2 separate regions of the Homo sapiens genome follow, and region 2 is linked to region 1. The links come from fine-mapping of genetic effects on gene expression. A gene starts in region 1. The other region holds a variant in brackets. All regions are shown on one strand. Distances are from middle to middle.

Region 1 (8,259 bases):
CGGCTCAACAAAACCCCTGCCTCTTGGGTTCAAGCAATTCTGTGCCTCAGCCTCGTGAGTATCTGGTATTACAGACACCTGCAATGCCTGGCTACTTTTTGTATTTTTAATAGAGACGGGGTTTCACCATGTTGGCCAAGCTGGTCTCGAACGCCTGACCTTGTGTTCCACCTGCCTCAGCCTCCCAAAGTGCTGGAATTGCAGGTGTGAGCCACCGCGCCTGGCTGGGCAGAAGTTGAGAAAGGGCATTTCAAAGAGAGAGACAAGGCACGTCCTGTTGCGTAGTGTTGGTGGGGAAGTCTGGAACAGGCTGTGGAGGATTTTGTATAGCAGATGGAGTGAGATGGAGGGCCCCACAGAAGGACATGTGGAACCAGTACTGGTTTTTAAAGCAGAGGGGGTTGGGTGCAGTGGCTCACGCCTGTAATCCCAGTACTTTGGGAGGCCGAGGGGGGTGGATCACCTGAGGTCAGGAGTTCGAGACCAGTCTGGCTAACATCGTGAAATTTAGCCTATAATCCCAGCTACTCGTGAGGCTGAGCCAGAAGAATCACTTGAACCTGGGAGACGGAGGTTGCAGTGAGCTGAGATCGTGCCGTTATACTCCAGCCTGAGTGAGAATAGTGAAACTTCGTCTCAAAAACAAACGGGCCGCGCGTGGTGGCTCACGCCTGTAATCCCAGCACTTTGGGAGGCTGAGGTGGGCGGATCACGAGGTCAGGAGATCAAGACCATCCTGGCTAACGTGGTGAAACCCTGTCTCCACAAAAAAGTACAAAAAATTAGCCGGCATGGTGGCAGGCGCCTGTAGTCCCAGCTACTTGGGAGGCTGAGGCAGGAGAATGGCCTGAACCTGGGAGGCAGAGCTTGCAGTGAGCCAAGATCGCGCCACTGCACTCCAGCCTGGGTGACAGTGCGAAACTCCATCTCGAGGAAAAAAGAAAACAAAAAACCTCCGAAAAACGAAAAATGAGCCAAATATAGTGGCTAGTGCCTAGAGTCTCATGTACTAGGGAGGCTGAGGTGGGAGGATCGTTTGAGCTGGGAGGTCAAGGCTGCAGTGAGCTGTGATCATGCCACTGCACTCCAGCCTGGGGAAATATTTTTTCAGCACCTTTTATGTACCAGGCACTGTTCTAGGTGATAGGAATAGCATAGTGTAGGAGACAGGAGCCCTTTCATGGAGTTTGTATTTTAGACAAGAGATAGTTAATAAGAAAGCAAATTTCTGGTAATGACATGAATTATAAACAGGCAAATGTGATGGAGGCTGATGGGGGTTGGAGTGGGAGCTACCGAAAAAGAAGTCGTCTCAGGATGGCAAAATGGCGTTAGTTACATAGAATCAAAGGACAGTTTCTCCAGCATAATCAGCAACATGTGCAAAGGTTCGGATGTGAGAATGGGCTTTGCTGGAAAATAGAAGGCTAGCGTGGCTCAAGAATAGGAAGAGAGAAGGAAAAGGGTACTTGTGGTATGTGTTGAGGTCAGGGAGGTGGGTATGAGTCAGATTGGGTGGATTCTTTTAGGCCTCAGTGACGAGATGGGATTTCATTCTCATCACATTTGGAAGCCACAGAGGGGTTGAAGCTAGGAGTGACAACAACTTGTTTACATTTGAAAAGACCACTTTGGTTGCTGTGTGAAGGGACTACAGGGTGCTAAGAGGGAAGCAGAGAGCAACGAAGGCTTTGTAATAGACTAGGTGAGAGTGAATGGTAATTTGGACCGGAGCGGCAGTGGAGATGGAGAAAAATTAACGCTATTGGGTTAATGTATTTTGGAGGCCTTGAATGCCAGGACTTGAAGGATTGGATAGGAGGCAATAAGAGGAAAAACGGGCCAGGTGGGGTGGCTCACACCTGTAATCCCAGGACTTTGGGAGGCTGAGGCCGGCAGATCACTTGAGGTCAGGAGTTTGAGACCAGCCTGGCCAACATGGTGAAGCCCCGTCTCTACTAAAAATACAAAAATTAGCTGGGCATGGTGGTGGGTGCCTGTACTTCCAGCTACTTGGGAGGCTGAGGTAGGAGAATCACTTGAACTTGGGAGGCGGAGGTTGCAGTGAGCCGAGATCGTGCCATTGCACTCTAGCCTGGGCGACAGAGAGACTCCTCAAAAAAAGAAAAATGATGACTCTTGGATTTGAATCTAACAATCACAAAAGTACACAAACATAAACATAGAGGTATTAGCGTGTTCACTACAGTTTGCATTAGCAAAAAGCTGGAGCAGCCTTTAAGCATTAATTCAGCAATAGAATTATTAAATCATGGTGCACCCATTTCATTCATACCACAGTTTAAAAAACAGCATAAAGAAGGCCATGAGTGAAAACAAGCCACACGCAGACCCCAATCTTGTAAAATATTCATTTATGTGCTTGTGCATAGACTAATATTAGGAAAGTATACACGCTACTGGGGCAGGGCTTTGCGGGGGAGGAGCAGTTTTTCTTTTTACTTTATGCCTTTCTGTACTGTTTGAATTGGCTTTTGCAAGGCGCACGTCTTGTATCATTTCTGAAGTTGCAAATGTAGTTAAAAATGTCTGTGATTTCAAGTTACCTAGAGAGTTATTGATTCCTTCTCTTTCCCTGCCGCTGCCGAGTTGCGCGGAGGCGGAGGCTTGGGTACCTTCAAGATTCAGCTTCACTTGTAACCCACCGCCACGGCCGAGGAAGGCATTGCTGCTGGAGGGGTAATGGATGTTAATACTGCTTCACAAGAGGTGCTGAAGACCGCTCTCATCCACCATGACCTAGCACGTGGAATTCGCGAAGCTGCCAAAGCCTTAGACAAACGCCAAGCCCATCTTTGTGTGCTTGCATCCAACTATGATGAGCCTACTATGTATGTCAAGTTGGTGGAGGCCTTTGTGCTGAACACCAAATCAACCTAATTAAGGTTGATGACAACAAGAAACTAGGAGAATGGGTAGGGCTCTGTAAAAATCGACAGAGAGGGGAAACCCCGTAAAGTGGTTGGTTGCAGTTGTGTAGTAGTTAAGGACTATGGCAAGGAGTCTCAGGCCAAGGATGACATCGAAGAGTACTTGAAATGCAAGAAATGAAGAAATAAATCTTTGGCGCGCGTACACACACACACACGTTACTGATTCCTAGGCAGGGTGCGGTGGCTCATGCCTGTAATCTCAGCACTTTGGGAGGCCAAGGCGGGCGGAACACCTGAGGTCAGGAGTTCAAGACCATCCTGGCCAACATGGTGAAACCCCATCTCTACAAAAATACAAAAAAAATTAGCCGGGCGTGGTGGCGCGCGACTGTAATCCCATCTACTCGGGAGGCTGAGGCAGGGAAATCGCTTGAACCTGGAAGGTGGAGGTTGCGGTGAGCCGAGATCGCGCCACTGCACTCCAGCCTGGGCCACAGAGCGAGACTCCGTCTCAAAAAAAAAAAATGAGAGTTATTGATTCCTACAGCGAAGATGTCCCAAGACTCCGTCCGCTAAATGGAAATCGTTCCGACTTTGGCGCCTTTTGTCCGGACCACGTGTACCTTTAACATCACAGGACCGCCTCGGACACGCTCACAGGCAGCCTCATCCGCCATCACTCCGGGAACCGAGCACCCCGCTGCCTCGGCGCCCAGGCTGCTCTCTCCGCGCATGCTCCTTCCCAGCTTGAGCCCGCGAGTCCAGCCTGCCTTCACTCAGTGCGCAAGACCGCAGCCCCCTCCCCACGCCCCCTCCCCAGTAGGCGGCCGTCGCGGTGTGTTTGCGTCATCGCGCCACGCCACCACTGGAACCCGGGGGAAGATGGCGGCAGCCGTTCTGAGTGGGCCCTCTGCGGGCTCCGCGGCTGGGGTTCCTGGCGGGACCGGGGGTCTCTCGGCAGTGAGCTCGGGCCCGCGGCTCCGCCTGCTGCTGCTGGAGAGTGTTTCTGGTTTGCTGCAACCTCGAACGGGGTCTGCCGTTGCTCCGGTGCATCCCCCAAACCGCTCGGCCCCACATTTGCCCGGGCTCATGTGCCTATTGCGGCTGCATGGGTCGGTGGGCGGGGCCCAGGTGAGTCCGTGGCCCGCGTGCCCGCGGCCCTGTGGGGAGGATGGCGCGGCACCTGTGCGCCGGGATTACGGTGCAGTGCAAGTGCGATAGGGAGGTTGAAGGAAGGAGAGCTGCGGGCAGAAAGGGGATCCAGGTATCAGTCCGGACGGGATGCACGTATTTCTCCTTTATCGGCCATGAGTTTCTCCAGGGGAAAAATGGGCCTTATTTTTCTGTTGTTAGGCTATTGGTCGGCACACAGGAATCGATTAGGTTCCAGGCCCGGTCACTCACTAGTTGTATAATCTAAAAGTCTCTTTTTCCTCTGGCAATATCTGTTTCGGGGATTGTTTCGACTGACTGAATGACGCATTCAACAATAAACATTTACCGAGCTCTTATTGAGGGTCAGATACTGTACTAGGCGCTCCGGTTACAGACGTGGTGGCGATACACAAAATGCTGCGAAACAAGATGAGAATTGAATATCAGGGGTCTCTAACCTTATCTGAAGACTGGCAGAGATTTTTCCAAAGAAACCGGCGTTTAAGCTGAGACCCTAAGGATGAATAGGGGTTGGGTAGGGAAAAAATATGGGAGGGGCTGTTCAGTCAGAGGAGAGCTCATGTGGGAAGACCCTGTGGTAGGAAGGAACTGGAAAGAAGGGCATCGTTCCTGGGGCTCAGATGTGGAGGGGAAGAGAGTGGGTACAGATGAGACTGGTGAGATGGGTAGGCAGTGGTCGGGTCATGCAGAGCGTTTTAGGCCGGGTTAGGAGCCTTTGGACTTCTATAAGAATGGAATCTGATAACCATTCAGTTCTGCAAGCTAGACACTCAAGTAATTCTAAACTCTTCTTCATACACCTCCATAAGCAATCTGTCAAGTCCTGTTGATTTTATCCTTTGAGTAGTTTTCAGATCTGTCCACTCTTTTCCATCTTTCTCATTGCTCCCATTCTAGCTTGAACCCCCACCATCTTGTCCGGGTGAAGGCACTGATTCTAAGAAGGCATATTTCTAGCCCATAATAGCTGCTCCTTATAACAATCTCCTATCTTCCCTTCTCTCCCACTAAACCTCCCCCAAATTCTACCCATCCTTCAAGACCCATAAACACGAGATCTTCTGTGTCCACCCTTCATTCCTGGGACCTTCCTAGCTCTATGCTACCTTCCAGGAAGATGGTTGTCACAATTTGCTGGGTGGGTCAATAACCTTAGCCCCAGATTTATCACAGATAACCCTATCTGTTTGTCTTTAACATTACTCTGCATAATTGAGGGTGACAAAACTATATCTCTGCTATCTCAGCCCAATATCAGAGGCTGGAGCTGATTATGTATTTTCTCTTGTCTCTAAATTCCCCTCTTCTAATTTATGTGGTTTTCATCAGTCAGTTATATTACAGTGGGGTTTTTCTGTTTTCTTTATCTCACAATAGTCCCAGAATTATTATTATTTTTGAGACAAGGTCTTACTCTGTCACCCAGGTTGGAGTGCAGTGGCATGATCTTGGCTCACTGCAACCTCCATTTCCCAGCCTCAAGGGATCCTCCCACCTCAGCCTCCAGAGTAGCTGGGACCACAGGCATGCGCCACCATGCCCGGCTAATTTTTGTATTTTTGGTAGAGACGGGGTTTTGCCATGTTGCCCAGGCTGGTCTCAAAGTCCCGAGTTCAGGCGATTCACTTGCCTTGGCTTCCCAAAGTGCTGGAATTACAGGCACGGGCCACCATGCCTTGCCCCCCAGAAATTTTTTTTATAAGTATTTGTGAAATATTACCTATCCCGCCTATAAATGTGTGATTTCTTTCATCATCTCTTTCAGGACTTCCTCTCCTCCCTCAAAGTCAACTACATGAACTTAACGTCTTGCTTATTTTTCTTACATGTCTGAAGTCTAGTAGAATTTTGAGTAAAGAAGCTAAGAGTGATGTGGGAAACTAGGGCCGCCCTTTAATATTTCCTGTGCTACTTGTTTAGATACATCCTGCCTTGAATTTTTTTTCTACTTGTGTCCTTTGAATTGGGATTATGTGGAGGATTTCCTTTCCTTCCCCAAAGGTTTCATTCAACAAACATTTATTGAGTATCTGTTATGTTTTACGTACTGTTCCTCGTCTCTAGGTAGATAAATAAGACATGGTCCTTTCCCTCAGAGAATTTCTAGTCTAGTTAAGATGAGAAATGAAAGTCAGCAATAGACCTGGAGCTTGCGAGCAAGGGGGATCCACTGTTTGATCATCCACCTACCAACATGGCTTTTCCGCAGGTACTGCAAGCTCAGTAGTTCCAAAATGGAATGATCCTAGCACAGTGCTCCATATCTAGCTTGGAGTATATTATAGCAACAATCTTCTAACGGGTCTCCTTACCTTCAGTCTTGCCCTCTGTAATCCGTTCCCCACACAGTAGCTGGAGTGAGCTTTCTAAAGTAAAATTCTGATCCTGTTTGCAGCTTTTAAAAATCCTTCAGCCTCTGGGTGTTCTTTCCTCAGAGGCTTTGTACTTACTCTTCTCTTGGAATCCCTCCCTGTGCAGTGCCCCCACCCCCCCAACTCTCATCCTCCTTCCCAGTCTTCTCAATTCTTTGCTTATTTGTCACTGCCTTTGGGATATATTTCTTGGCCACCTATGATTGACTGCTCTTTATCCTACTGTCTGTTTATTTATTTCACATATACTTATAACCTCTCTCCCCTACATTCAGCAAGTCTTTGATTTGTTCTTGTATGTAATTAATAAAACTTATATAAAATTTCAGACATAAATAGTATTTTCCCCACCCCACCCTATGCTGCCCCCATCACTCAAATTTAACAGTGAACGTTTGCCAATGTTATTTCATTCCTCCCATAGCTTGGCTTTTTTTTTTTTTTTTTTTTTTTAGTGGAACTTTGCTTTTTCTTTCTTTCTCTTTTTCTTTTCTTTTCTTTTCTTTTTTTTTTTTTTGAGATAGGGCCTTACTCTAACTCAGGCTGGAGTGCAGTGGCCAGATTATGGCTCACTGCGGCCTTGGCCTCAACCTCCCAGGTTCAAGTAATCCTTCCACCTCAGCCTCCCGAGTAGCTGGGACTACAGGTGTGCCACCACCCCTGGCTAATTTAAAAATTTTTTTTGTAGACATGGGGGCTTTATATGTTGTCCAGGCTGGTCTTGAACTCCTGAACTCAAGTGATACTCCCGCCTTGGCCCCCCAAAATCCTGGGATTACAGAGGTGAACCACCGTGCTCAGCTTGGTGGACCATTTTAAAGCAAATCCCAAATGTCATTTATCCTGTATATTCTTTTGAAGGACAAAAACAGTGTCTTGTTCTGTCTTCTACGTAGGCCTCAGCCTCCTGAGTAGCTGGGATTACAGGCACCTGCCACCATACCCAGCTAATTTTGTATTTTTAGTAGAGACGGAGTTTCACCATGTTGGTCAGGCTGGTCTCGAACTTCTGACCTCAAGTTATCCTCCCCACTCGACCTCCCAAAGTGCTGAGAATACAGGCATGAGCCACCACATCCGGCCACTTTTTGTCGTATTTTAGAGTGTACTCCTACTTAAATAAAAAAATCTTCCTGCCTCAGCCTCCCAAAATGTTGGGATTACAGGGATGAGCCACTGCACCTGGCCTCTCTTTTTGTTGGATCATTTTCATCAGCATACAGGCTCAAAACTTCATCCTCGGCCAGGCGTGATGGCTCACGCCTGTAATCCCAGCACTTTGGGAGGCCAAGGTGGGTGGATCACAAGGTCAGGAGTTTAAGACCAGCCTGGCCAAGATGGTGACCCCGTCTGTATTAAAAATACAAAAATTAGCCAGGCGCAGTGGCAGGCATCTGTAATCCTGTAATCCCAGCCATTCAGGAGGCTGAGGCAGGAGAATCGCTTGAACTCGGGGCAGAGGTTGCAGTGAGCCGAGATCGCGCCTCTGCACTCTAGCCTGGGTGATAGAGTGAAACTCTGTCTCAAAAAAAAAAAAAAAAAAAAAAATCACCCTCTAGGGCTGGGTGCAGTGACTCACATCTGTAATCCCAGCACTTTGGGAGGCTGAGATGGGTAGATCATTTGATGCCAGGAGTTCGAGACCAGCCTGACCAACATGGCGAAACCTCATCTTTACTAAAAATGCAAAAATTAGCTGGGCGTGGTGACGCATGCCTGTAATCCCAGCTAATCAGGAGACTGAGGCAGGAGAATTGCTTGAGCCTGGGAGGCAGACATTGCAGTGAGCCGAGATTGCGCCTGCGAACTCTGGCCTG
Region 2 (17,215 bases), 52 kb after region 1:
TTATATTTAATCAAAGTAAGATTCATTCGTTCATTCGGTCATTTATTCTTGGAGATATACTTCGTGCTGCACTCTGGACTGACTGTTCCTCTTATTTTATTCTGAACTTCTCTTCCTCATCCTTGGGAATTTCCTTTTGCCTTTCTGTTTCCTGGATCCCATACGTTCCTCTTTCTTGGCTTATTTCTTTATTTCAGTGGACCACATCCTCCAACAGCTTCTTAAGAACGGGTGTGTAGGAGGTAAAAGGGTTTACTCCTTGCATTTCTGAAAATAACTTTATCATCATGTTTATTTGACAATTTGGCCAGGTACAAGGATCAGAAATTCTTTTCCCTCAAAATCCTGTAGACATTTTGTCATTTCTTCTGTTTTCCAATGTTGCCATTAAGAATTTGATGGGCCCGGTGGCTCACGCCTATAACCCCAGCGCCTTGGGAGGCAGAGGCCTGAGGATTGCCTGAGCACAGGAGTTCGAGACCAGTCTGGGCAACATGGCAAGATTCTATCTCTATAAAAATTTAAAAAATTATCTGACTATGTTGGGGCACGTCTGTGGTCCCAGTTACTCGGGAGGCTGAGGCAGGAGGATTGCTTGAGCCCAGGAGGTTGAGGTTGCAGTGAGCCATGTGTGTGCCACTGCACTGAAGCCTGGGTGACAGAGTGAGACTTTCTCTCAAAAAAAAAAAAAAAAAGTTTGAGGTCGTTTTGGCTCATTTTGTCATTTTGTATGTAAGCAATGTTTTTTTTTTTTTTTTTTTTTTTTCTCTCTGGAAGCTTTTAGGATTTTGCTCTTTGTCCCCAGCTTTCTGAAATTGTGCAGTGCTATGCGTGGGTCCAGGTCTGTTTATGTTCATTTTGTTGGCACTTGGTGGGTTGTATCAACCTGGAACTAATAATATGTCCTCAGGTCTAGAAAATTTTCTTGTTTATGTTAAATGTTTTCCTCACATTTTTTTCTTATTCGGGAAATTCTATTGTTTGGATGTTGAGTTTTGGACTTACTTTCTAATTTTACTTACTTTTTCTTTCTTGATTTCTATGTCTTTGTCTTTTTTTCTGGGATGTTTCATCAACTTTTCCTCCAATCCTTCTTTTGAAATTTTAATTTCTGCTATCAAGTTTTGATTTCCAAGTGTTTAGTGTTTAGATTCCTTATAATCCGAATGTTCTTTTTGTTGCTGTAGTAAATAGGTTCCTGTTCTTGCTTCATGGCTGCAATATCTTCTCTTATCTCTCTTTGTACATTACGATAATATTTTGAAAAAGTTTTCCTCTGCACGCTCTTATCTGTCTTTTCTCCAAGTTCCCTTTCTGTCTGGTCTCTTTATTTCACAGTGGGAGCTTTCCTTAAATATCTGGTGGTGCTTGGCTGTCATAGTTAAAGTAAGGCCCTGTGAGCTCATTGGAAACTGTGTGCATTACTGGAACTTTTCAACTAGAGGACTTTGCTGGGGGTGATGGGGATGCCAGATGCCAGCATCTCTAGGCCATGTCTGTTGGTTATGCTCAGTCTCCCCAGATCTCTTATCTCTGACTCAGAGGGTGTAAGCCAGGCTGCTGGTGTCCAGGAAGCTTGGGTGTGTGGGGGCGGGGAATCCCCCTGTCCAGTATGTTGTTTTCAGCATAGAATTGCAACCTGACACTCAGCTGTGCCTGGTTTCCCCAGAAAATAATCTTTATTTTATTTCATTTTATTTTTTTTGAGACGGAGTCTGGCTCTGTCGCCCAGGCTGGAGTGCAGTGGCGCGATCTTGGCTCACTGCAACCTCTGCCTCCTAGGTTCAAGTGATTCTCCTACCTCAGCCTCCCGAGTAGCTGGGACTATAGGCGCCCGCCACCATGCCTGCCTAATTTTTGTATTTTTAGTAGAAACAGGGTTCCACCATATTGGCCAGGCTGGTCTTGAACTCCTGACCTTGTGATCAGCCCACCTCTGCCTCCCAAAGTGCTGGGATTACAGGCGTGAGCCACCGTGCCCAGCCAAAAATAATCTTATATTTCCCCCAGGATTAGGCAGAGGTAATTTCCTGGCTGTGCAGATTGGGGAAAGAGATCTGGGGGTCTAACTGCTGCCTTTAGCTATTTTCAGCTGATTTTCTGTGTCCAATCTTACTCTATGTCTGTGCATTCAGAGGTAATTGGTGCCTTCAATTTTTGAGCTTTTTCAGGACTCTGTTGAAACTATGCCCCAAAGAGAAAGAAACCAATGACTAACAGAAATTCTTAAGTTTGCAGGATGGCAGATAAGAAAAGAAACCTCTTGCTGAAATGCTGAAACTTCCTCTGCTTATGAGATTAAAAAAACTGGCTGAAATCAGTTGGAATCCATATGGCCAGCTGGAGTCTATGCAGAATGAGCCCGCTGACCTCACAGCCTTTCCACTGCACCTTTCACACTAGCGCCCCCCAAATTTGCACCTATGACCCATGAAGAGGCATGAAGATACCACTGTGGAGGCCCGAGGACTTTCCAGACCTTTCCTTCCCTTCCACTAATCACCTATTCATCTCAGAATCCACCCGCTAAACATTTTTTTTTTTTTTTTGAGACGGGAGTCTCGCTCTGTCGCCCAGGCTGGAGTGCAGTGGTGCGATCTCCGCTCACTGCAAGCTCCGCCTGCCGGGTTCACGCCATTCTCCTGCGTCAGCCTCCCGAGTAGCTGGGAATACAGGCGTCTGCCACCACTAATTTTTTTGTATTTTTTAGTAGAGATGGGGTTTCACCGTGTTAGCCAGGATGGTCTCGATCTCATGACCTCGTGATCCGCCCGCCTTGGCCTCGGAAAGTGCTGGGATTACAGGCGTGAGCCACCGCGCCCGGCTTAAACATTTTCTAATGAAGACACTGCCTTAAAGCTGGCACAGAAAGATTTGAGCTGGACTTCTGTCTCCTTGTTGGTCGAACTGCGATAACAAGCTTTCGTTTTCTCAAAAACCTGGTGCCATAGTATCGGCTTCTAGTGCATGGGGCAGCGAGCCCTTTCACTCGGTAACACTGCGTCAGGAACTGGCATGCATTTTGGTGGTCTCACAACCCCAGCTCTGCCCCCCAGCACATCTCGTTGAGAGGTGACAGCGTGCCGGCAGCTCTCGGCGCCTCCTCGGCCTTGGCGCCCACTCTGGCCTTGCTTGAGAAGCCCTTCAGCCCGCCGCTGCACTGCGGGAGCCCCTTTCTGCGCTGGCCAAGGCCGGAGCCGGCACCCTCAGCTTGCGGGGAGGTGTGGAGGGAGAGGCGCGAGCGGGAACAGGGGCTGCGCGCGGTGCTTGCTGGCCAGCGTGAGTTCCGGGTGGGCGTGGGCTCGGCGGACCCCGCACTCGGAGCGGCTGGCCGGCGCCCCCGGCCCGGGCAGTGAGGGGCTTAGTACCTGGGCCAGCAGCTGCTGTGCTCAATTTCTCGCCGGGCCTTAGCTGCCTTCCCGTGGGGCAGGGCTCGGGACCTGCAGCCTGCCGTGCCTGAGCCTCCCCACCCCCGCTCCGTGGGCTCCTGTGCGGCCCGAGCCTCCCCGACGAGCGCTGCCCCCTGCTCCAAGGCGCCCAGTCCAATCGACCACCCAAGAGCTGAGGAGTGCGGGCGCATGGCGCGGGACTGGCAGGCAGCTCCACGTGCGGCCTGCTGCGGGACCCACCCACCGGGTGGGTGAAGCCAGGTGGGCTCCTGAGTCTGGTGGGGACTTGGAGAACCTTTATGTCTAGCTAAGGGATTGTAAATACACCAATCGGCACTCTGTATCTAGCTCAAGGTTTGTAAACACACCAATCAGCACCCTGTGTCTAGCTCAGGGTTTGTGAATGCACCAATCCACTCTGTATCTAGCTACTCTGGTGGGGACTTGGAGAACCTTTGTGTCCACACTCCGTATCTAGCTAGTCTAGTGGGGACATAGAGAACTTTTGTGTCTAGCTCAGGGATTGTAAATGCACCAATCAGCACCCTGTGAAAACAGACCAATCAGCTCTCTGTAAAACGGACCAGTCAGCTCTCTGTAAGATGGACCAATCAGCAGTATGTGGGTGGGGCCAGATAAGAGAATAAAAGCAGGCTGCCCGAGGTCGCAGAAACAACAAGCTGGAACACGTGTGTGCGTGTTGTTTTTTTGTTTTGTTCTTTGTATTTTTTGTTTGTTTGTTTGTGCTGTTTGTAGTAAGTCTGGTCGCTGTTTGGGTCTACACTGCTTTTATGAGCTGTAACGCTCACCGCGAAGGTCTGCAGGTTCACTCCTGAACCGCGAGACCAGGAGGAACAACTCCTCCAGACGCGCTGCCTTAAGAGCTGTAACACCGCGAAGGTCTGTAACTTCACTCCTGAGCCAGCGAGACCACCAACCCACCAGAAGGAAAAAAACTCCCAACACGTCCAAACATTAGAAGGAACGAACTCCGGACACGCTGCCTTTAAGAATTGCTACACTCATTGCGAGGGTCCGCGGTTTCATGCTTGAAGTCGGTGAGCCCAAGAATCCACCAATTTTGGGCCCACCGTTCTCATCATTTTCTAATCTGTTAAGTCGGTTATCACCTGGCTGCTTCCAGGTGACAAAATCTGTTAAATCTCATCTGCAGTTGTAATCTCTCCTACTGTCTTTTTTCTTACGAGTTTATATATTTAAAACAATTTTTTTTTTGAGATGAAGTCTTACTCTGTTGCCCAGGCTGGAGTGCAATGGCGCAATCTTGGCTCACTGCAACCTCCGCCTCCCAGGTTCAAGCGATTCTCCTGCCTCAGCCTTTCCAGTAGCTGGGATTACAGGTGCGTGGCAGTACGCCCAGCTAATTTTTGTATTTTTAGTAGAGACGGGGTTTCACCATGTTGAGCAGGCTGGTCTGGAACTCCTGACCTCGGGTGATCTGCCTGCCTTGGCCTCCCAAGGGCTGGGATTATGGGCATGAGCCACGGCGTCTGGCTTTTTTTTTTTTTTTTTTTTTTTTTTTTTTTTTTTTGGAGACGGAGTTTTGCTCTTGTTGCCCAGGCTGGAGTGCAATGTCGTGATTTCGGCTCACCACAATCTCTGCCTCCCAGGTTCAAGTGATTCTCCTGCGTCAGCCTTCATGAGTAGCTGGAATTACCGGCATGGACCACCATGCCCAACTAATTTTGTATTTTTAGTAGATACGGGGTTTCTCCATGTTGGTGAGGCTGGTCTCGAACCCTCGACCTCAGGTGATCCACCTGCCTCGGCCTCCCAGTGTGCTGAGATTACAGGTGTGAGCCACTGTGCCCCCTCCCCTCCCCTTCTCTCCCCTCCCCCATTTTTTTTTTTTTTTTTTTTTTTTTTTTAATCAGGACCGTCTGCAGTATCTCTTTGGACTGAGAGGTAGTGTTCTCACCCTGGTTGCTGAGGCCAGCTTTCTCAGGCATAGGGTGGAATGGATGGATGTATCACCTTGGGAATAAAAAATGGCAGAGGCCAATCTTCCGTGTGTTTATTTTATGTACTGTGTGTTCTGTGCTTGAGGCAGACTGTAGGGACTTCCACACAACCCTATTCCTTGACTCATCTTTGAGCCACAGCCTACCGTTTGCCCCAAGGAGAGAGTTGCAAAGGCTCTTCCCCGTCTGTCTCTTCACAGGCATTTCAGGTAGCGACATTTGTCAGATATCCTGGTGACAGTTTGACCTGGTACACTCTTGCTCTTTAGCCTCCTCTTTATGTTAAATACTCTGTCTTCAGTTCAACATTTCAGTTAGAACATTTACAAGTATTTTGTTTTTCTTAATCTTACTGCGGTATCTATGGCCCAGTTTACCTTATATTGAATCTCAGGTGTTTCCGAAATTGCACACACATTCACAAGTCATGGGTGGGTTTGGGTGGTCAAAGCTTCTTACTACATCCTTTTTTTTTTTTTTTTTTGAGACAGTCTCCCTCCGTCGCCCAGGCTGGAGTGCAATGGCACGATCTCGGCTCACGCAACTTCCGTCTTCCGGGTTCAAGCAATTCTCTCACCTCTGCCTCCTGAGTAGCTGTGACTACAGGTATGTGTCACCATGTCCAGTTAATTTTCGTATTTTTAGTAGAGACGGGGGTTTCACCATGCTGGCCAGGCTGGTCTCGAACTCCTGACCTCAGGTGAGCTACCCGCCTCAGCCTTCCAAAGTGCTGGGATTACAGGTGTGAGCCACCACGCCCGGCCTATCTTTCACTTTTAAGTTCAAAGTGAAGCAGCTGAACTGAAAACAACTAATTCCATGTAAATTGTTTGCAGGATTAAGTATCATTTTCAAATGACACCATATCACTTGGAATTTCACTAGAAAATCTTCCAGTTGCCAACTCTTTTCTCAGGTTCTGAGGTTTCCAAAAAACCTTATTTCTTTCCAAGTCTCTCAGCAATGCTTTTAATACATTATAGCCAAGTATAACCTTATTACTTCCAAATGACCAAAATCCTGATAACTTCATTCTGAAAACAGGCACAGTTTGAGCCAATATTGTAAATATTTGTTTTTAATAGCTTGACTTATGTCCTGAATAGAACTGAAAACACACACACACACACACACACACACATACACACATTACACATACATAACACACATGGGTTTTATTCATTAGAGTCAGACAGAAAAGAAATCTAATTCATTGAATTTTCCATGTTTAATTTATTTCAAGACGAAGATAAAATCAAAATTTGTCCTACTTGCATTCTTTGGCTTTGTGGTATTTCATATTTTAGTCAATCTTTATTTCTGTAAACATAAATGTACTCATACTTCTTGATTTACCTAGTTCAACCACTGTTCCTCTTAATTTAAAATTATTCAGAAGTTTTCTACAAGGCATTTTTCTTTCATAACCATTTCCTAAACTTTATTTCCACATCAAAGACTTGGGATTTAATAAGAATTCTGGAGTTCTTGAACTCACGTCGTCTTCCTCCGCTTCACCCAGATGATGGACAGTGTATTTAGACCAAGGCTGGAGTCATCGTCATCTTACAGCCAATGATTAAGCCCAGTACTCCTCTCATTTCCTCCAAAAGGGTTGGTTGGACAGGATCCTTCCCTAAGGCCCTTTTTTGGGGGATTATTTCCTGGTTCCTTCTGGTTGTTTAGCAACTGGTTAAATTTCCTCACTCTTTTCTCTGTGATGTCTCCTGTGCTCGACCTACATGACTTCCATCAGTACATATGGCTAATTGATGTTGGGTGGGGCTGGAAAATAATCAGTTAAAGGATGACCTGGAGAGCTATTGGTATATCCTGCCTGTTTTTTGTTTGTTTTTTCACACTAGATTCAGCTAGTGGGCTCCACACATGTTTGTTTGTTTTTTTTTTTTTTTTTTCCTGCAATCTCAGCTCACTGTAAGCTCCGCCTCCCGGGTTCATGCCATTGTCCTGCCTCAGCCTCCCGAGTAGCTGGGACTGCAGGTGCCTGCCACCACGCCTGGCTGATTTTTTTGTAATTTTAGTAGAGACGGGGTTTCACCGTGTTAGCCAGGATGGTCTTGATCTCCTGACCTCATGATCCACCCGCCTTGGCCTCCCAAAGTGCTGGGATTACAGGCTTGAGCCACTATGCCCGGCCACCACACATCTCTTGGCATCCACAAAGTGGAGTGCCACTGGGTGGATGTCTGCCCTGTTTGCAGCTGGTATGCCTTATCCCCTAGGCTTCTGTCTCCTGTAAGGCAAGGGGGCCTGTGGTTTCCGCCAACACTTTGTTTTGTTTTTTCAGATGGAGTCTCGCTCTGTCGCCCAGGCTGGAGTGCAGTGGTGTGATCTGGGCTCACTGCAACCTCCACCTCCCGGGTTCAAGCAATTCTCCTGTCTCAGCCTCTCCGGTTGGTGGGACTACAGGTGTGCACCACTACTCCCAGCTAATTTTTGTATTTTTAGTTTTTTCATAGAGACAGGGTTTCACCATGTTGTCCAGGCTGGTCTCAAACTCCTGACCTCAGGTGATCCACCCGCCTTGGCCTCCCAAACTGCTGGGATTATAGACATGAGCCACTGCGCCTGGCCAACACTTCTTGAGACAAGGAGTGACTTAGTTCATCTCTCCAGGCCTTCTTCTACTTTGTCTTTGACTTCTGCATGTCTGTTCCAGTTATTGCATAATGAATCACTCCAAAATGACGACTGAAGACATCAATCATTATTTTACTATTAGCGTTTAGAGTTTTGACAATTGACAGGGGCTCAGCTAAATTATCCTTACTTGGAGACTTTCATGTGGTTGTAGTTAGACAGTGGCTGAGGCTGGAGTCATCTGGAAGACTTCCTAAGTCATACTGGTGGTCAGTACTGGCTTTTTACCTGGATCTAGAGTTAGGGCTGTCGGCTGGGACATCCACACATGGTCTCTCCATGCCACCTGGGTTTCCTCACAGCATGGTGACCGTTCCAAGAGTGAGCAAAGGCTCACTCACAGAGTTAGCAAGAGTGATCCCAAGGCAGCAAAGTGAAAGGAATTGCATGGCATTTGACCTAGTCTCAGAAGTCACGGCCAGGCGCAGTGGCTCACGCCTGTAATCCCAGCACTTTGGGAGGCTGAGGTGGGCGGATCACGAGGTCAAGAGATCGAGACCATCCTGGCCAACATGGTGAAACCCCGTCTCTACTAAAAAGACAAAAATTAGCCAGGTGTGGTGGTGCATGCCTGTAATCCCAGCTACTTGGGAGGCTGAGGCAGGAGAATCACTTGAACTTGGGAGATGGAGGTTGCAGTGAGCCAAGATTGCGACATTGCACTCCAGCCTGGGCAACAAGAGCGAAACTCTGTCTCAAAAAAAAAAAAAAAAAAAAAAATATATATATATATATATATATATATATAGATTCAATGCAATCCCAATTTTAAAAAAAAGGATTTTAATTATTTATTTTAAGACAGAGTCTCACTCTGTTGTCCAGGCTGGAGTACAATGGCATGATCTTGGCTCACTGCAACCTCCGCCTTCTGGGTTCAAGCAATCCTCCTGCTTCAGCTCCTGAGTAGCTCGGATTACAGGTGCCCGCCACCATGCCCAGCTAATTTTTATATTTTTAGTAGAGACGGAGTTTCACCATGTTGGCCAGGCTGGTCTCGAACTCCTGGGGTTAAGTCACCTTCATGCCTCAGTCTCCCAAAGTGCTGGTATTACAGACGTGAGCCACTGCACCCGGCCAAAAATACAGTAGGAATTTATGCTAATAATTTTTATCAATATCAATAAGCAGATTGCAAAATTTATAGCAAAAGGCTAAGGTAATGGAATATCTAAAATAGTTTTGGAAATGAAGAACGATGTTTCAAGACTAGTACTACCTGATTTCAATACTTATAAAGCTACAGTCATCAAGTCAGTGTAGTATTGGTGGAATGATAAGCACGTAGATCATGGAGAAAAATAGCCCAAACATAGGCATAGGTGTGGTGAAGTGATTTTTGGCAAGGATGCAAAGGCAATTCAATGGAGGAATCAAGAAATGGTGCTGGAATGATATTTGCATATGAATATTCATATGCAAAAAATGAACTTGACCCATTCTTCATACCTCATACAAAATTTAACTCAATGGATCACAGACTTAAATATAAAGTGTGAAATCATAAACTTTCTAGAGAAAACAGGAGAGAATCTTTATGGTCTTTTGTTAGGCATAGGCAAAACACAATCCTTAATGAAAAAAATTGATGAATTGTACTTCATCATAATTCAAAACTACTCTGCTAAAGACACTGCTAAGAGATAAAAAGGCATCTTCACTCTGAGATGCTGCTTGTGGGGAGAAAATGTTTGTAAATCACACGTCTTTCAAAGGACATAATATCTGGCGGGACGCAGTGGCTCACATCTGTAATCCCAGCACTTTGGGAGGCCGAGGAGGGCGCATCACCTGAGGTCAAGAGTTCAAGACCACCAGCCTGGCTAACATGGTGAAACCCTGCCTCCACTAAAAATGCAAAAATTAGCCGGGGCATGGTGGCACATGCGTGTAATTCCAGCTACTTGGGAGGCTAAGGCAAGAGAATCGCTTGAACCGGGGAGGTGGAGATTGCGGTGAGCCGAGATTGCGTCACTGCACTCCAGCCTGGGTAATAGAGTGAGACTCCATCTCAAAAAAAAAATAAAAATAAATAAATAAAAAAGGACTTAATATCTAAAATATTGCTCCACGCTGGGCAGACTTACGCAAACCTATCTGCAAAAGTCTGAGGAAGCTGAGAGGCCGAAGAAAGAGGCTGACATATCTAGTTTCTCAGAAACATTTAATAGAAACTTAGGAACAGAAGCCACATCTGTGTCTCAGGTGGTGGTGAGACAAGATCGTGGATCCCCTCTCCACTACTCCCTAGACCCAGGCCTTATATATCATACGGAAAGGGTGCATGCTTCAGAAGGGATGTATAGGACAATTGCTGAAGGGCAGGCTTTATGGTAAGTACATACTCTTACACAAGGAACAATAGGTAAACTGGAAATCTTACAGGCTCCTTGAACTGTGGTTAATCAAAAGTCTACATGAGGCCGGGCACGGTAGCTCACGCCTGGAATCCTAGCACTTTGGGAGGCCAAGGCAGGTGGATCACTTGACGTCAGGAGTTTGAGACCAGTCTGGCGCATACTGGTCTCAGTGTGAACATAGTGAACCCTGTCTCTACTAAAAATACAAAAATTAGCTGGGCGTGATGGTGCATCCCTGTAATTCCAGCTACTTGGGAGGCTGAGGCAGGAGAATCACTTGAACCCAGGAGGCAGAGGTTGCGGTGAGCCGAGATCGCACCACTGCACTCCAGCCTGGGTGACAAAATGAGACTCTGTCTCTACAAAAAAAAAAAAAAAAAAAAGTCAACATAGCTGCTTAGCATCCAAGCTGGAGTTGCTCCACAAATATATAAATAACTCAAAACTCAACAACGAGGAAAAAAAAAAATCCACACAAGTTTGAATAGATACTTCACCAAAGTAGATATACAAATGTCAAATAAACACTTGAAAAGATGCTCAGTATAGTCAGTCATTAGCAAAATGTAAATTAAAACCATAACGGCATACCAGTGTATACCTATTAGAATGGCTAATCCCTCCCCACTCCCCCACAAACCATCCCTTGCATCCAAAACAAACAGTACCAAGTACTGGTGAGAATACAGAGCAGCTGGAACTGTCATACATCGCTAGTGAGAGACTGACTATACAAAAGGACAATGGACAGAATCAAATATAAACACAGACCTTTGTCCCATAACCTCTGTAGCAACCAGCCCTGGAAGGAAGCCAAACAAATCCTCTACAGCAATTGGCCTCAAACAGTAAGGGCTTGGTCAATAACTGCCAGATTTCTTCATTTCTGTCTCCACTTCCACTTAGGACCAACTGAGAAAGGCAAATATGCACCCCTAATCAATCATATAGCCTGCTCTGCTTCTAGTTCTGCTTATAGCTTCTCGGCGCCAACAGCCTCCAATCAGCTTGTTCTTAGGAAATCAGAAGTGGGAGGACCACTGAACCCCACTCCCTGACATCTTGATTGTTGAGAATTTGCCCTTAGAGGCTGAGCCAGATTCACATCAATTTCTGCTCCAAAATCTAAGGTGGTTCCTCCAGGAACAACTCTGTTTTATTTTATTTTCTAAGGTAGAAGATACCCTCTCCCTCTCTTGTGTGAATTCAGGAAGATCTTCAGCTTATTCTGAAGTCTGAATTTTCCCAGTGAAGCTCCTCTGTAAATTACCATCTTCCTCTAACCGATCCTTGTTTTCCAAACTGCATTCCATATTATTTGGTGCTTTTGTTCATCTAAAGCTCCTCTAGCCTTAACCCACACGGGCAGAGTGGTTTTTCCTCCTGCTTGTGGGAGTATGTTTATCTGAAGTCTGATGTCCAAACCCTGTATCTTTTTGAGAATTGTTGGGCAATGGTAGA[G/A]TTGAAGGCATTGACAGCTTGGAGGTCAATTTCAATTTTTAACACTGGGCAGAAAAAAATTCCACTGATCGTTTGCTTCTTTCCCTCAGGCCTACATTTCAGTGACATGTTCTTTGTTTTGTTTTGAGACACAGTCTCGCTCTGTTGCCCAGGCTGGAGTGCAGTGGCGCAATCTCGGCTCACTGCAAGCTCCACCTCCCAGGTTCAAGCCATTCTCCTGCCTCAGCCTCCCAAGTAGCTGGGATCACAGGTGCGCACCATCATGACTGGCTAATTTTTGTATTTTTAGTAGAGATGGGGTTTCACCATGTTGGCCAGGCTGGTCTCGAACTCCTGACCTGATCAGGTGATCCGCCTCAGCCTCCCAAAGCATTGGGATTCCAGGCGTGAGCCACCGCGCCCAGCTGAGAAGCAATATTTGACATTCTCGACACCACTTTGACAAAATAATACTTGTAAAGTACGATATTAACATATTTTTTTGATTTTGTTTTTTCAGAGACAGGGTCTCCCTCTGTTGTCCAGGCTGGAGTTCACAGGCACAATCATAGCTCACTGCAGCCTCGAACTCCTGGGCTGAAGTGATCCTTGCATCTCAGCTTCCCACACAGCTGGGATTACAGGCAAACACCATCATGCCCAGCTAATATTTTTTATTTTTGTTTTTATTTTTTGAGATGGAGTCTCGCTCTGTCACCTAGGCTGCAGTGCAGTGGCCACGATCTCGGATCATTGCAACCTCTGCCTCCTGGGTTCAAGTGATTCTCATGCCTCAGCCTCCCAAGTAGCTAGGACTATAGTTGCCCACCACCATGCTCGGCTAATTTTTGTATTTTTATTAGAGACAGGGTTTCATTATGTTGGCCAGGCTGGTCTCGAACTCCCAACCTCAGGTGATCCACCCGCCTTGGCCTCCCAAAGTGCTGGGATTACAGGCGTGAGCCACCGCACCCGGCCAATTTTTATTTTTGTAGAGACAGAATCTCACGATGTTGCCCAGGCTGGTCTCCTGAGCTCAAGTGATCCTCTCGCCTCAGACTCCAAAAGTGCTGGGATTCCAGGTAGGAGCCACTGCACCCAGTGGACACATGTATCTTTATGATCCTGGTACTTTCATAATCTCAGCTGGGGCTTACTGCACTTGAGCTCAGTTTTGGATTTTTGAGTTTCAAAAACCCAGGCATTAGGAGGCCCATGGAGAAGCAAAGTCCACATCCAGGGTCTTCTCTGCACTTACCTTGGAAATATCATCTGATGTCAGTGTCCTGGAGCCATATCGGGACAGAGAGGGTACACATAAGTGACCAGTGGACATCACCTGCATAGAAAAGCTTTGTTCGTTGTCCAAGCCTGTCGCTTTGACTGCAGCCAATGTGTCACTTATTGACTGGCCCTCTCCTGTCCCTGCTCAGCTCATCTGAACCACTTCAGGTGGATGCCTCTTCTTTCAACATCAACATTATTTGTCAGTTGCTTTGCTGACTGATCCGTTTTCTAACAGTACTTCTATGGACTTTACAAAGTCTTCTAATGTTTCAAGACTTGAAATTTCACTCTGTAGCCAGTTAGATGGACAAAGGTAGCTGGCATTAATAAAGCAGGAAGAACCGGGTGCAGTGGCTCACGCCTGTAATCCCAGCACTTTGGGAGGCCGAGGCGGGCCGATCACCTGAGCTCAGGAGTTTGACACCAGCCTGGGCAACACAGTGAAACCCTGTCTCTATCAAAAATACAAAAAATCATCCAGGCATAGCGGCAAGCGCCTGTTTTCCCAGCTACTCGGGAGACTGAGGCAGGAGAATTGCTTGAACCTGGGAGGTGGAGGTTGCAGTGAGCCGAAATCGCACCATTGCACTCCAGCCTGGGTGACAGAGCGAGACTCTGGGTCAAAAACAAACAAACAAACAAACACAAAAAAACAAAAGCCACAAAAAAAAAAAAGGAGGAAGAGGTGAGTGAACTAATTTTGAAAGTGGTCAGTTCATTGAATATTTTTTGGCTTTACATAAGCTTGGGAGTTTGAGGATTCAGAAAATAAGCATGCAGACCGTATTAGTTATCTATTTCTGCTTTACAACGACCTCAAAACTCAGTGGTGTGATGGCACATGCCTGTGGTCCCAGCTACTTGGGAAGCTGAGGTGGGAAGATCACTTGAGCCTGGGAGGTGGAGGCTACAGTCAGCTGTGACCATGCCACTGCACTCCAGCTTGAGTGACAGAGCAAGACCCTGTCTCAAAAACAAAACAAAACAAAAAACACCCATTACCTTACACAGTTTTGGGAGTCAGTTGGTTCTAGTTCAAGAGTCTTATGAGGTTTCAGTCAAGAGATTGGCTGTAGTCATCTGAAGTCTTAACCGGGGCAGGAGGATCTGTTTCCAAGATGGCTGCCCCACGTGGTTGGTAGTTGGAGGGTTCAGTTCCTCACTGGCTCGTAGCAGGAGGGCTCAGTTCCTTGCCACGTGGACCTCTCCATAGAGTTTCTTGAGTGACCTCATGACATAGTAGTTAATTTCTCTCAGAGAAAGCAGAACAAGAAAGAGGGAGAGTGGGGAGGGAGGAGACGGAAAGCCCTAATGTCTTTTAGGACCTAGCTTTGGAAGTCACACACATCATTTCATACTGCATTGGCTTTGCAGACCAACCCAGACACAATGTAGGAGACTATGGAAAGGCATGCATATCAGGAGGTCGGAATCACTGGGGGATGTTTTAAAGAATGGCCACCACGAGCATGCCCTCTGAATTCTGGTGATTTACATTCCTTCCACATGCAAAATACACTCGCTCCCTCTCAAGCTACCCCAAAGTCGAATCCCATTATAGCATCAGCTCAAAGTCTAGAATTTCATCATCTAAATCAGGTCCATGTATAGATGAGATTTCTCAACTGTATTACCTTAAGTATACTTCCAGAATACAATTCCTCCTCTTCTTTTTTTTTTTCTTTTTTAAAGAAGTTTCACTCTGTTGCCCAGGCTGGAGTGCAGTGGCACGATCTCAGGTCACTGCAATCTCTGCCTCTGGGGTTCAAGCGATTCTCCTGCCTCAGCCTCCTGAGTAGCTGGGATTACAGGTGTCCACCACCATGCCTGGCTACTTTTTGTATTTTTAGTAGAGATGAGGTTTCACCATGTTGGTCAGGCTGGTCTTGAACTCCTGAACTCAGCTGATTCTCCCACCTCGACCTCCCAAAGTGCTGGGATTACAGGCATGAGCCACCGTGCCTGGGCTCCTCTTCTTCTGAAGACCTGTAAACTAAAGAGAAAGTCATCTGACCCCACCCCCAACATACAATGTTGGAACAGGCATAGGCTAACCACCATAGATATCCCTATCCAAGACGGGAAGAAATGGCCTGGGTCTTTCCTCTCCCATCACAACTGCATCATAATCTAACCTCACTCAGTCTACCCACAAGTTACTGTGAATTACTTTTGGAAGCCTTCCCAACTCTTCAATCACACTTTTAATCTGCAAGAAAATTACTGGGTTTGTGCCATTTCTATGGAAGATGAATTTTACCCACCACATTTTGATTTTTCTGAATTTCACTTATAAAAAAAACCTTTTGGTTGGGCACGGTGGCTCACACCTGTAATCCCAGCACTTTGGGAGGCTGAGGCAGGCTGATCACATGAGGCCAGGAGTTCGAGACTAGCCTGGCCAACATAGCGAAAACCCATCTCTACTAAAAATACAAAAAATTAGCCGGGCATGGTGGCAGGCGACTGTAATTCCAGCTACTCGAGAGACTAAGGCAGGAGAATTGCTTGAGCCCGGGAGGCAGAGGTTTTAGTGAGCCAAGATCGCGCCACTGCACTCCAGCCTGGGCGACAAGAGCAAAACTCCTTCTCAAAAAAAGAAAAAAAAAAAAAGCTCAACTTTACTCATAATAAGGGTAATGCAAATTAAAATTAAAACTAGGGTACCATTTTTCACCTATCCGATTGGCTAAGGTAAGGTTATGAACACACCATTGGCAAGAGTGAGGAAGAATGGGCATTCTCATACACAGTCCACTGGTGGGAGTCTAAATCAGTACAACTTTCTACAGAGGGCAATTGAGCAGTTTCTGCCTAAATTCGATATGCTTTTGGTCCAGAAATTCTATCTCCAGGGTTTTGTTCTACAGAGATACTTTCATACGAGAAATGCTGTATATGCGAGGTTTATTTCTTTCAGCACTTTTTCATAGCTACAAAAGATTACTAATAACCTGTGTCCACTACAAGAGACTAGTAGAATTTATGGCGTTACAGCAAATGGCAGCCTTAGCAAAGAACAAGGAAGCTCTTTATGCATGGATATGGAATGACCTCCTGTTGCACTATGGAAAAACGAGATGCAGAATAAGGCATGCTACAATGTGCAGAAAAAGACAAAGATAGGCGTGTATTTGCTCAGTAATATTAGTGCACAGAAGAGACTGGTAACTGTGATTGCTGGGAGTGGAGCAACTGGGTGGCTTGGGGCCAAGAGGAGGGAGAAACTAGTGAATATCACTTTGTACCTTTTGAATTTTGAATCACATGAATGTACTTCCCAGTAAACAATTAAGCAGGGCCGGACATGATGGCTCATGGCTGTAATCCCAGCACTTGGGGAGGCCGAGGCAGGTGGATCACTTGAGGTCAGGAGTTCAAGACCAGCCTGGCCAACATGGTGAAACCCCATCTCGACTGAAAATACAAAAAGTAGCCGGGCATGTTGGTGGGTGCCTGTAATCCCAGCTACTCTGGAGGCTGAGGCAGGAGAATCGCTTGAACCCGGCAGGTGGAGGTTGCAGTGAGCCGAGATCACACCACTGTACTCTAGCCCGGGCAACAGAGCAAGACTCCATCTCATTAAAAAAAAAAACACCAAAAACAAAAAACAAGCAAACCAGAAAATATGCATCACAGACATATTTTCGTGGACTTCATTTGTGTTACCAGGCTGATTGTAATCCATGCCATGAAGTTTATGTTAGTATTCCCCTTTTGTTTACATTGCCTGATAATTTGTTTCCCTTTGTCTCCCCCAAGGGAAGCATTCATTTATAATGAATTTTTCAGCTCAGTGTGTTTCAGCAAACACTTATTGACACCCACAAACCCTGACACTGTGCCGTCTCCAGGGGAAACAAAAGTGAGAGTCCTGCTGGGTGTGTAGTCCCTGCCTAGGACGGGCTCACATTAGTGGGGGATACACACATACAAATGCTCACACTGCAGTATTAACTGTGCAACAGTAGAAGTGTGCGCAAGGAGAAAAGTGTTAGAAAGGAAAGCTGGGCCGGGCGCCGTGGCTCACACCTGTAATTCCAGCACTTTGGGAGACTGAGGTGGGTGGATCACAAGGTCAGGAGTTCAAGACCAG

Alleles and levels. Alleles are on the strand shown, and positions count from the first base shown. SD is a standard deviation of normalised expression in the study named.
For the expression in subcutaneous fat of the gene that starts at base 3,658 in region 1, A is the high allele of the variant in region 2 and G is the other (large effect, 1.0 SD a copy in GTEx).

The links. PIP is the estimated chance that this variant, and not a neighbour inherited with it, causes the effect.
Region 2: its variant is fine-mapped to the expression of PELP1-DT in subcutaneous fat (GTEx, PIP 0.98).

The regions. Positions count from the first base shown.
Region 1 is chr17:4,699,629-4,707,887 of GRCh38, reverse strand. It overlaps PELP1-DT (PELP1 divergent transcript), which reads right to left and starts at 3,658. Exons shown (of 2, transcript NR_103482.1): 1 at 3,518-3,658; 2 at 2,359-2,689. PELP1 (proline, glutamate and leucine rich protein 1) reads left to right here and starts at 3,751. Exons shown (of 17, transcript NM_014389.3): 1 at 3,751-4,025. The coding sequence starts at 3,777. It also overlaps the pseudogene RPS12P29.
Region 2 is chr17:4,642,906-4,660,120 of GRCh38, reverse strand. It overlaps LOC105371499 (a long non-coding RNA gene), which reads right to left and starts at 15,112. Exons shown (of 3, transcript XR_001752768.2): 1 at 14,122-15,112; 2 at 13,091-13,171. RefSeq lists enhancers at 1,833-2,002, 3,058-3,227 and silencers at 10,322-10,537, 11,713-12,007. The variant G/A (reference allele first, on the strand shown) is at 11,854.